Linked DNA regions of Homo sapiens: region 1 is linked to region 2. The links come from fine-mapping of genetic effects on gene expression. A gene starts in region 2. The other region holds a variant in brackets. All regions are shown on one strand. Distances are between the middles of the regions.

What was found. PIP is the estimated chance that this variant, and not a neighbour inherited with it, causes the effect.
Region 1: its variant is fine-mapped to the expression of LINC02691 in adrenal gland (GTEx, PIP above 0.99).

The regions. Positions count from the first base shown.
Region 1 is chr14:104,240,474-104,245,843 of GRCh38, reverse strand. All of the region lies in intron 1 of LINC02691 (long intergenic non-protein coding RNA 2691), which reads right to left. Among named protein-coding and RNA genes, the nearest start is that of LINC02691, 20 kb to the right of the region's middle. RefSeq lists an enhancer at 5,163-5,370. The variant C/T (reference allele first, on the strand shown) is at 2,080.
Region 2 is chr14:104,221,462-104,226,831 of GRCh38, reverse strand. It overlaps LINC02691 (long intergenic non-protein coding RNA 2691), which reads right to left and starts at 3,248. Exons shown (of 3, transcript NR_146612.1): 1 at 3,016-3,248. RefSeq lists an enhancer at 3,394-4,286.

The sequences.
Region 1 (5,370 bases), 19 kb before region 2:
TGTATAGCAGATGGCTCAGAGTTGAGGGTAAGAGTATGGGGTCTCCACCCAGACACTATCATCTGACTCCCACTTCAGCCTTTGTGAAGGTATCTGACCTTTAAAAATTATTTAAATCCCCTTGCCTTGTTTTCCTCCTTCAGAGAATGAGGATAATAGTTAGAGTCACTCTCAGGCCACTGAGAGACCAGATGGACTTCACTGTTCACAGAGCTCAGGCTATGCCTCGTCAGGATGGTGCTCAGGTGGTTCAGCTGCTGTTATTACTGCCACCCACATTATTGCTGTGTCCCCACTGGCTCTGCCAGGCCATTGAGGCTGGAAAAGGGCGCCAAGTGTCAGTGACCATGATGCATTCTCCATCCTAGGGGGCAGCTAGCCAGGGGAAATGAGGAGGGTCATTGTAGATGGCAGGAAACCCAGAGATCCATCCTGGATCCACCCTGGGGTGGGTGTCACCTGCTCTTCAGAATGCAGTGGAAAACACCAGGTGAGGGAGAAGTCCTCACCTGTCTGTAGCTCGGGCAAGGTTGAGGTATCCCCTTGCTGCATCCCCCTTTCCCTCACACCAGCCTCAGCCTCCTGCTCTGTGTCTTGCCTTGGGTGGCTGGAAGAGGAGCAGGCCAGGCTGTGTCACTGTGAACTGGGAAGCACCCTCTATGGGCAGGGATGGGGTTTCTGTTGACCACCCACTGTCCTGGGCCTGAGCAGTCATCCTGCATGGGAAGGCCGGGGATCTGACCCTGACCTCCCCACTTAGTGGATCGTTCACTTCCCATGCAGGGCAGGGGACAGGTGTCTGCTCACACCTGCTCAGGGAGGGTAACAGGCTCTATCTTGGCACAGAGAGGACCCCAAGAGGCTGGGAGCCCAACAGCACATGCCCCCTCCACAGCCATGCAGTCCCCAGAGCCCACAGTGTCCACTGCCTTGGGAGCCCTCCCCAGCCCATCCTTATCCCTCCAAGCCCCCTTCCCACCCCCGACAGCTCTTCCACCTGCCGCAGCTGCAGGAGAGCAGAAGGGGCACCGACCACCAGGAGCCGCGGGCCCCAGGGCCACAGCATGCTTCTGGCCGGGGCAGGAATTCAGGGTCAGGGGAAAGGACTAATTATGGCTCGAGGATAAAAACGTGAGCCAGGCAGCTGTGTGCATGGAAGGAATGCTCCCCTCAGAGACACGTTTTCCGACTCCTGGACTGCCGAGAATGCACGCTTTGACATTTATGAGGCCCGGGTCCCCCATAAACCCAGATTCCAAAGCGGCGGACAGCTGGTCTGATCCTGGGCATCCAAGGTTGCAGAGCCCTGGGCCCCACGGCCATTTACAATGGGGACATTTGCATTCACTCTGCAGCTGAGGAGCCTTGCTTCTGGACCTGCTGACATTTGCTGAGCAGCTACGGAGCCCAAACTGCAGAATCTGGAGTCACCTTCGCACCGGCAGCAACTTGAGAAGTGCAGGAGATGTGTTCCTTCAGCAGCTGAGGGGACAGAGGCTCCAAGAGGCTGAGAAGCTCCGTCGAGGCCAGGAGCCAGCCGTAACCAGCTGTCTCCCTGCACATAACTGCCCGCTCCAGCAGCACAGGCCCTGGCTGGTTGTTATGCTTTCCAATAAGAATCAAATTGGAAAACAGTTTCCAAATGTCAGCAGTGTTCTTGTTGGGCAGCAGTACTATTGAGAGATGGTTGCTCTTTATTTCCTTTTCTATATTTTCTGCTTTTTCCTGTCCTTACAACAGAAAATAGGAGATGTCTCTGTCCATAAGTAGCAGATTAGTGACTAGGACCAACTCTTCCACTGAACACAACTAGAAAAGCTGGATTAAAATATTTCAATTGGCCAGGCATGGTGGCCCATGCCTATAATCCCAGCACTTTGGGAGGTCAAGGTGGGTGGCTCACTCGTGGCCAGGAGCTCAGGACCAGCCTGGACAATATAGAGAAACCCCGTCTCTACTACCAAAAATACAAAAAAAAAATAATAATAACCTAGCCTAATGTGGTGGCGCACACCTGTGGTCTTAGCTACTTGGGGGGCTGAGGTAGGAGGATCCCTTGAGCCTGAGAGGTGGAGGATG[C/T]AGTGAGCCACGATCAGCCTAGGTGACAGAGTGAGACCCTGTCTCAAAAAAAAAATTTTTTTCCAATCTTCTTTAAAGCAGAAAAGAGCAAATCAGGTAGCAAAGAATGCACTACCAGGCCAAAACCTTGGAGGAGTTGAGAGCCCAGCAAGTACTGCAAAACATAAGCAAGAGTCAGCTGCTTCTGCTTTAAAGAACTTTGCAGCCTCAGGAATGACTGTTGCACCCATCAGCCCCCTCAATGGCAGGTGAGGGAGAACCAGCAAGGCTCAGAGGACTCTTAAGAGCCAGCCATGGGCATCTTTTTCCAATCCCACACTCAGTGATGTTGTGTTGGTAACTTGAAGTCAGCCATGGCAGGAGTGTTTACACCATGGGAATTGGCAGGTGCTACAGATCAAAACTGTTTTTTTTTATGAAGAGCCAGTTATTAATTATTTATCAGCATGGCATTAGGGACAACAGAGTCAAAGCCCAGAGTTGGTAAGAGAGAGGAATCCGACAAGGCCCCAACTCTAAGCCTGAAGGCCATGGGTGAGTCAGAAGTAAATCAGTCCTTGTGTGGGCCTGCCATTTGTGATGGTGACTTCAGAGGTCCTGCTCCAGGAAATCTCAAGGCTTAAACTTCGTGTAAAATACTTCCAGACAGGTAGTGCCCCACTAGGCACCTGCAAAAAGCAAACCAACACCATCCTTAAAGAAAGGTACTATTGGCCAGGTGCCGTGGCTCATGCCTGTAATCCCAGGACTTTGGTATACTTGAGGTCAGGAGTTGGAGACCAGCCTGGCCAACATGGTGAAACTCTGCCTCTACTAAAAATACAAAAATTAGCCGGGTATGGTGGCACATGCCTGTAATCCCAGCTACTCAGGAGGCTGAGGCAGGAGAATCGCTTGAACCCGGGAGGTGGAGGTTACAGTTAGCTGAGCTCACACCACTACACTCCAGCCTGGGCAACAAAGTGAAACTCATCAAGAAAAGAAAAGAAAAGAAGAGGGGAGGGGAGGGGAGGGGAGGGGAGCAGAGGGGAGGGGAGGGGAGGGGAGAGGAGAGGAGGGGAGAGGAGAGGAGAGGAGGGGAGGGGACAGAAGAGGAGAGGGGAGGAGAGGAGAGGAGAGGAGAGGAGGGGACAGGAGAGGAGAGGAGAGGAGAGGAGAGGAAAGGAGAGGAACTATCATCCTAAGGCTCAAATTATTCTTACAAGCAATTTTTCAATACAATCTCTAGCACACAAAGATAACCACACACAAAATGAAATTAAATTCACAATCAAGAGCCAGCAAAAACAAAAGACAATAGAAACAGATGCACAAAGACTTCAGGTTTTGGAATTATAAGCAGAAGATCAGATCACATCAAATAACGATGCTTGCTAAGTTTAAAAGATTCAAAAATTCAAACATATCACAGGAGACTGAAAACTATAAAACATGTCAGAGAAGATTTGGAAAAGAACCAAATAAAAATATTTAAAACTGAAAATTAACCAAAAATTAGAACTCAATGCCTAAGTTGTTTTTTTTTTTGTTGTTGTTGTTGTTTGAGACAGAGTCTGGCTCTGTCGCCCAAGCTGGAGTGCAGTGGCGCGATCTCAGCTCACTGCAAGCTCCGCCTCCCGGGTTCGCGCCATTCTCCTGCCTCAGCCTCCCGAGTAGCTGGGACTACAGGCACCCGCCACCACGCCCGGCTAATTTTTTTTTTTTTTTTTTTTTTTTTTTTTTTTTAGTAGAGACGGGGTTTCACCGTGTTGGCCAGGATGGTCTTGATCTCCTGACCTCATGATCCGCCCGCCTCAGCCTCCCAAAGTGCTGGGATTACAGGTGTGAGCCACCATGCCCGGCCAATGCATAAGTTTTAACAGCAGATTTTATACAGCTAAAGAAAGATGAATAAACTAGAAAACCAATCTAAAGACAGTGTCCAAAATGCAACAGGAGACAAAACCAACCAAACAAACAAACAAAAACAGGAAAAACAAATTCAAATTGTATTTCTACATCAACAAACAAGTAAAAAAATGTAATTTAAAAGCATCAAAGAATATTGGGCATCTAGGAATATATCTAACAAATTTATCTGAGACTAAAAATTGTATTGACAGAAATAAGGAACACCAAATAACAAGATAAAACATGCTCCTGTATTGGAAGATACAACCTGTGAAGATGCCAGTTCTTCCTGAATTGCTTTGGTTCAATAATATTCCACCCAAAACCCCAACAGCACTTGGTTCTGTGTCTATGGGAAGCTTAACAAACTGACTGTATAATGTGAATAGTAGCATAAAGAGCCTAGAGCTGCCCGGATACCCTCAAGGAAGAATTTTTTTTTTTTTTGTAAACCTATAACTGCTCAAAAAATAGTCTTTTTTTCTTTTCTTTTTTTTTTTTTTTTTTTTTTGAGATGGAGTCTCACTCTGTCACCCAGGCTGGAGTGCAGTGGCGCAATCTTGGCTCACTGCAACCTCCACCTCCCAGGTTCAAGCTATTCTCCTGCCTCAGCCTCCCAAGTAGCTGGGATTACAGGCATGTGCCACTATGCCCAGCTAATTTTTGTTTTGTTTTTAGTAGAGATTGGGTTTCGCCATGTTGGCCAGGCTGGTCTTGAACTCCTGACCCCAGGTGATCTGCCCAGCTTGGTGTCTCAAAGTGCTGAGATTACAGGCGTGAGCCACCGCGTCCAGACTAAAAAAATAGTCTATTAATTAGAAACAATAACAGATTGGCATTATCTAAAAGGGTTGAAGAGGCGCACATCTCATGACCTGGCAATTCCACTCCTGGGGAGGGACCCTAGGACAAGTGGGCACATGGGCGAGAGTGTTCACAGTAGCATGGGCCACTCAGCCAATTCAGATACCACCCAAGTGTTCATCAACAGCAGAATGGATGAGAAGCCTGTTGTATGTTCGCATGATGGAACATGGTGGAGCCATGGAAGCCAACGGACTATAGCTAGAGAAACCAAGAACTCAACACACTGAGATTATTTCACACCCCTATACAGGAAGATGCAATGTTATCAAGGTTGGCTGCACATCAGACAAAACAGCAGGTGAAAGAAACAAGGAACAAAGCAATCACCTAGCTTTATTCTATTTACATAAACCCCCACCCTGGCCCCGACGGGGAAAGCCACACCAGCTTGTTTAGGGTTGCTAGGACAGAAGTGTTGCCCATATAAGGAGGAGGCAAGAGTGACCGCAGGTGCAGGGGCTCTGCTGGAAGGGTGCAGGGGGAGGGGAATGAGGCTGGGGAACTCTACCGGGTGATCTGGATGGCAGTCACACA
Region 2 (5,370 bases):
TTAGGCTCATCGGAGTTCCTACCACTAAATCAAACACTAATCTGCTCCCCCTAATTTATCTAAGACAATATTAGCCAGACAAAATGAAACATAAATGTGAGTATGAGCCCGGCTATCTGGGAAGTGGGAGCAGGCGGCCTGGGGAAATGGATTTATCGTGTGTTTGCTGAGGCAGGCCAGGCATGCATGCCCGCAGAAGGCTGGTAGCTCCAGCTCGGCCCGGGCTAGCCTCACACAGGCGTCCACCTAAAGGCACATCAGCTTCCTCCCCAGGAAACAGTGTCGGGCACCATTGGAGCTTGAGAAACGGGAAAGTGAACCAGGGTGCCCTGCAGCTGCTGAGAATAATTCACACCAAAAGATTTCTCCAAGTGTTAGCGGACCTAAAATATCAGTGAGAGAGTTGGAAGCAAGCCGTATACCCAGAAGGACCCTGGTGGACATGCTACTTTGGTAAACAACTAATGGGATCCTAGAGTCAGAGGCAGAGGAGTAGCCCCACATAACCCACCAGTGACCATCAGTGACACATCTGTCAGGCTGTCAGGTGTGTGGCATGTGGCTGTCCTGTCTAACTTCCACCACAGCCCAAGGCCACCGGGATTTAACCCAATTCCCAGGTAAGAAAACTGGCTCCAGAGAGTGAAAACCACTTGCCCAAGATCCACGTCAATGAGATCTGAAGCAAGTCACACCCACCTTCACTCAGAGCAGCCCCGGGAGCCACACCTGCCTTCACTCAGAGCAGCCCCAGGGAGCCACACCTGCCTTCACTCTAAGCAGCCCGCGGGAGCCACACCTGCCTTCACTCTGAGCTGCCCCTGGGAGCCACACCCACCTTCACTCTGAGCAGCCCGCGGGAGCCACACCCGCCTTCACTCTGAGCAGCCCTCGGGAGCCACACCTGCCTTCACTCTGAGCTGCCCCTGGGAGCCACACCCACCTTCACTCTGAGCAGCCCGCGGGAGCCACACCTGCCTTCACTCAGAGCAGCCCCAGGGAGCCACACCTGCCTTCACTCTGAGCTGCCCCGGGGAGTCACACCTGCCTTCACTCCGAGCAGCCCCGGGGAGCCACACCTGCCTTCACTCCGAGCAGCCCCAGGGAGCCACACCTGCTTTCACTCAGAGCAGCCCCAGGGAGCCACACCCGCCTTCACTCTGAGCTGCCCCCGGGAGTCACAACCGCCTTCACTCCGAGCAGCCCCGGGGAGTCACAACCGCCTTCACTCTGAGCTGCCCCAGGGAGCCACACCTGCCTTCACTCAGAGCAGCCCCAGGGAGCCACACCTGCCTTCACTCAGAGCAGCCCCGGGGAGTCACACCTGCCTTCACTCAGAGCAGCCCCGGGGAGCCACACCTGCCTTCACTCCGAGCAGCCCCAGGGAGCCACACCTGCTTTCACTCAGAGCAGCCCCAGGGAGCCACACCCACCTTCACTCTGAGCTGCCCCCGGGAGTCACAACCGCCTTCACTCCGAGCAGCCCCGGGGAGTCACAACCGCCTTCACTCTGAGCTGCCCCAGGGAGCCACACCTGCCTTCACTCAGAGCAGCCCCAGGGAGCCACACCTGCCTTCACTCAGAGCAGCCCCAGGGAGCCACACCCACCTTCACTCCGAGCAGCCCCGGGGAGTCACACCCACCTTCACTCTGAGCAGTCTCCAGATCCCAGGAGGAAATGCAGCTGGGGTGATGGTGGGCATCTACCCACCATGGGTCAGCAACGCCCCCTGGGAGGCATCTTCCCTCCATCCCACCAACGACAGCACTGCTCTTAGCCCCACTCTGTTGAGAGTAGGGAGACGTGCCCAAGGTCACAGCAAGGTCAGGCCCTCCCTGACCCAAGCCTTGTGGCCTCTCCTCCACCCAGGCCGAGCCCAGCCGGCGTTCAGCAGCCAGGGACAGGCTTGCGGCCTGGAAACCTCTGGACCAGGCAGGGGCCCACAGCTCCTTCTGCCCCAGGTGTCTGTACAGCCCTGTGGTCACTGCTGCTCTGTCCCCTGCCTGGAAAATGGGCTGAAGCCACATGGATGAGACCACCTGAGGCAGCAGGTGGAGCCGAAGGTCCCTGTCCCTGGAGAGCATGGGGCCCCCGAGCACCCAAGGTCCCGGCCAGATCCAGCCCCTGAGCAGAGGCTGAGTGCTGTGGCATGGATGGGTGGGTCTGAGCCGGGAGCCCCCACTGTGAAGTGGGACTGGGAAGCCCAAACACCAGCAGGGGGCGCTCGGCTCAGATCACTGGCGCTGGCGGAGACACCAAGTCTGTAGACTGGCTCCGAGGTGGCCGGTGGTCTAGGGGACCCCCCACCCACACCCCTCTCTGGTTATCCCAGGGCCACCACAGACTACACGCCACCAGCCTGGCTCCTCCAGAGCAGACATCCAGCTTCTGGCCGCAGACCCCACCCAGATCTGCCTTCCAGCACATTCTGCCCCCTCCCCAGGGCCCTGGAGCAGATTACATCGAACCCCTTGAGCTTCCTGCCAAGGACAAGTGAGGGGCCAGGAGAGGGAAGCCCCATAAATCTCTTTGGAGACATGTGCCAAGATACCAGACACCAAAATCTCATTAGCAGGCTAAACTCTCGGGAGGAAATGGAAAATAAGTACCCGCAGATACAGGCCTGGAAACCGCAGGACCCCGAGCAGGAGACATGGATTAGTGGAGATGATATCCACGGGACAAGCTGTTGCCACAGGGGTTTTGCATGTTTTTTTTGTTTTTGTTTGTTTGTTTTTGCTTTAACTACAGTTTAAGTATAGCAGGACCCTCAGCACACCGGGTAGGTGGGGTTGAGGCCCTTTATTCACAAGAGAGGAGAGGAGGGAGGGCGAGGCCTGGCGGCAGAGGCACAGGGGGCAGGCAGGCAGCCGGGCCCTCCCAGGAGGGCATTCGTTCGGGAGCGTGGCTGCGCTGGGGCCCCGTCCATGCTGCTCAGAGCCCTGGCGCGTAACAGCTCCTTCCACGCAGGGAAAATCCATCCAGGTTTAATGGAAACATTAACCTCAACTCACCCGATTTCCTCCTCGCACTGAGGTCTGAGAACGGGAAGAGGCTCCGAGGCTGGAGCTCCCCAAGGCCTGGCACAGACGCGGGCCCACGGGTCCGGGAACACTCAGCGAGGGCCGGGACAGTGACAGTGGGTGCCTTCATCAGAGCAGAAGCAGCCCCAGGACGCCCCCACCCCTCTCGCCAGCTCAGCCAGCGTGCTCTTCACAGGCTGGACATGACAGACAGGAAGAGGAAAGCCCCTCCCCCAGCACTCAGCTGCTCATGCTCCCTCCGGAGTCTGCGCAAATTACCAAGGAAAGGGGGTGGCCCAGGCAGCTACGCCGTGTCCAAGGTCACCTGGTCCCCCTGGCGCAGTTCCAGGACACCCCAGGCAGGAGGTTGTCAGAGAAAGGAGGAGGCAGCTGGGGTGGGGGCGGGGGCGGCAGGCTGCCTGCAGAGGCGGGAGGGCAGGGTCGGGGAGGGGCTTTGGGGAGAGTAGGAGTCTGGGAGTGGACCACGCCCTCACACCCTGCCCCCTCAGCCATCAGCAGAGTGACCCAGAGCGGGAACTTGGCCAACGGTGAAGGCCACAGCAGGGGCCCAGAGGGGCTTGTACAGGGCACGTGCCGTAGGGTGCACAGCCACCACCCCGCGTGGCAGAGGCCTTAGCAAGAAAACTGAGGGAGTCTGCTGGGGGCCTCCAACAGTGGGGAGTGGGGGAGAAGACGCTGGCCTCCAAGTCCCTGACAGCTCCATCTATACCTCAGCAGGGAGGGGCAGGGTTGGTCCGAGACCAGGGTCAGGGCCCAACCCATTTTGAAGGGTCCGAGAGGCAGCTGCCCTCAAGAGACCTAGCTTGTGGCTTTGGTCTCCTCTGCACCCTTCAGGGCAGCCCTGTGCCATGACCCCGCACTGACCCTGACACAGGAGGCTGTACCCAAGGAGCTGGCACTTGGGGATGGGCCACAAAGCCATAAGAGCCTTCCAAGCAAAGACGCAGAAGGCCAGGAGTGGAGTCCCCGTCTCTTGGGCTGCAGGCCAGCACTCCCTGACCCATGCTGGGTTGAGGACCCCAGGCAGGCCTGAGGGACAGGCTGGCCGCATGTTCCCACCCTCAGGTGCCCCTGTGTGATGGCCTTGGTCACACCACCTACTGTCCCCCACCACATTGAATGACCCGCCCATGGGATCTGTGGTCTAGCAGTTTGAGACTAACTTCGATTTCTTCCTCTCCTTTTGTCCTGCCAGCCCCACCAAGAGGCCTGTGCACAGAGCCCAGGGGAGCCCGAAGCTCCCTGACACCATAGAGACCCCCTAACTGGCACAACGCTCCATGCAGGCAGAGCCAGGCCACAGCCACAGCACCATCAGAAGACGGGAGGCGGCTGTGCCTGGCCCAGGGAGCAGCAGGTGTGCAAGAGAGCAGGTCTTTCACCTGTGCTCCGAGGTGAGCAGGAAGATCTTTCTCCAATTGCCCTAAATGTGGGAGCCTGGTTTTCCATGTCAGAGAACAAACATTCCATCATTTTTATCTTTTCTGTCAGGTCCCAGAGCAGCTGCTTTGCCAGCGTCTCTGTTGGCAGGTGGCTCCATGTGAAGTCATCAGAGCCGGGCTCAGGCCACCCAGATGACGCACAGAGACAACCCCCCAGCAGGTCAGAGGGTGGCGGCCCAAGGTGGCTGCAGAGGACAAAGCGGGGAGGAGGGGCCTGGCCCCCCTCCGCAGGGTGCAGGCTCCCAGCACATCTGGGCGCCAAGGGTCCTGGTACCATGAGGGGTAGAGCAGCTCAAGGGCACCAGGCCAGCCACTGCCCGGAGGCTTCCCCAGCCCACACCCACCAGGGCTGCCCCTCAGCCTGGGGCCTTCCAGACCACCCTCCACCCACAGGGCGGCATCCCCCCTCTTCATGGCGTCTGAACACCTCTCATCTCTTCATAGCATCCGAGACCCTCCGGAACACCTCTCCACATCCACCTACCCGGGCCCCGGCCCTCTGTGCTGTTCTATGCTGCAGGTTTGCCCAGGGGGTGCCCCCACCGCACCCCCTTCTGGGGGCCAAAGGCTCAGGCTACACGCCTGGGGAGCACTGGTGGCCTTTGCCTGGGTCTCGGGTCCCCATGTTCCCCCACCCCAGCTCCTCGCCATGGGCTGACTCCCAGTCTCACTCGTTTCCGCTGCGTAGGAGCAGAGACTTTCAGGAAGGACTCCATAGTCCTTGAGACCACCTCTCTCCCCAGCTGTCAATGCCACCGGGGGTGCCTAAGAGCCCAGGGAGCCTGCATGCCACCCACCACGTGGCCTGGTGGGGAGGCTCTGACCAGCGTTTCATTTGCAGACCGGGTTCCTGGCTGTGCTCCCTTCCCTGGGGCAGCCCGGC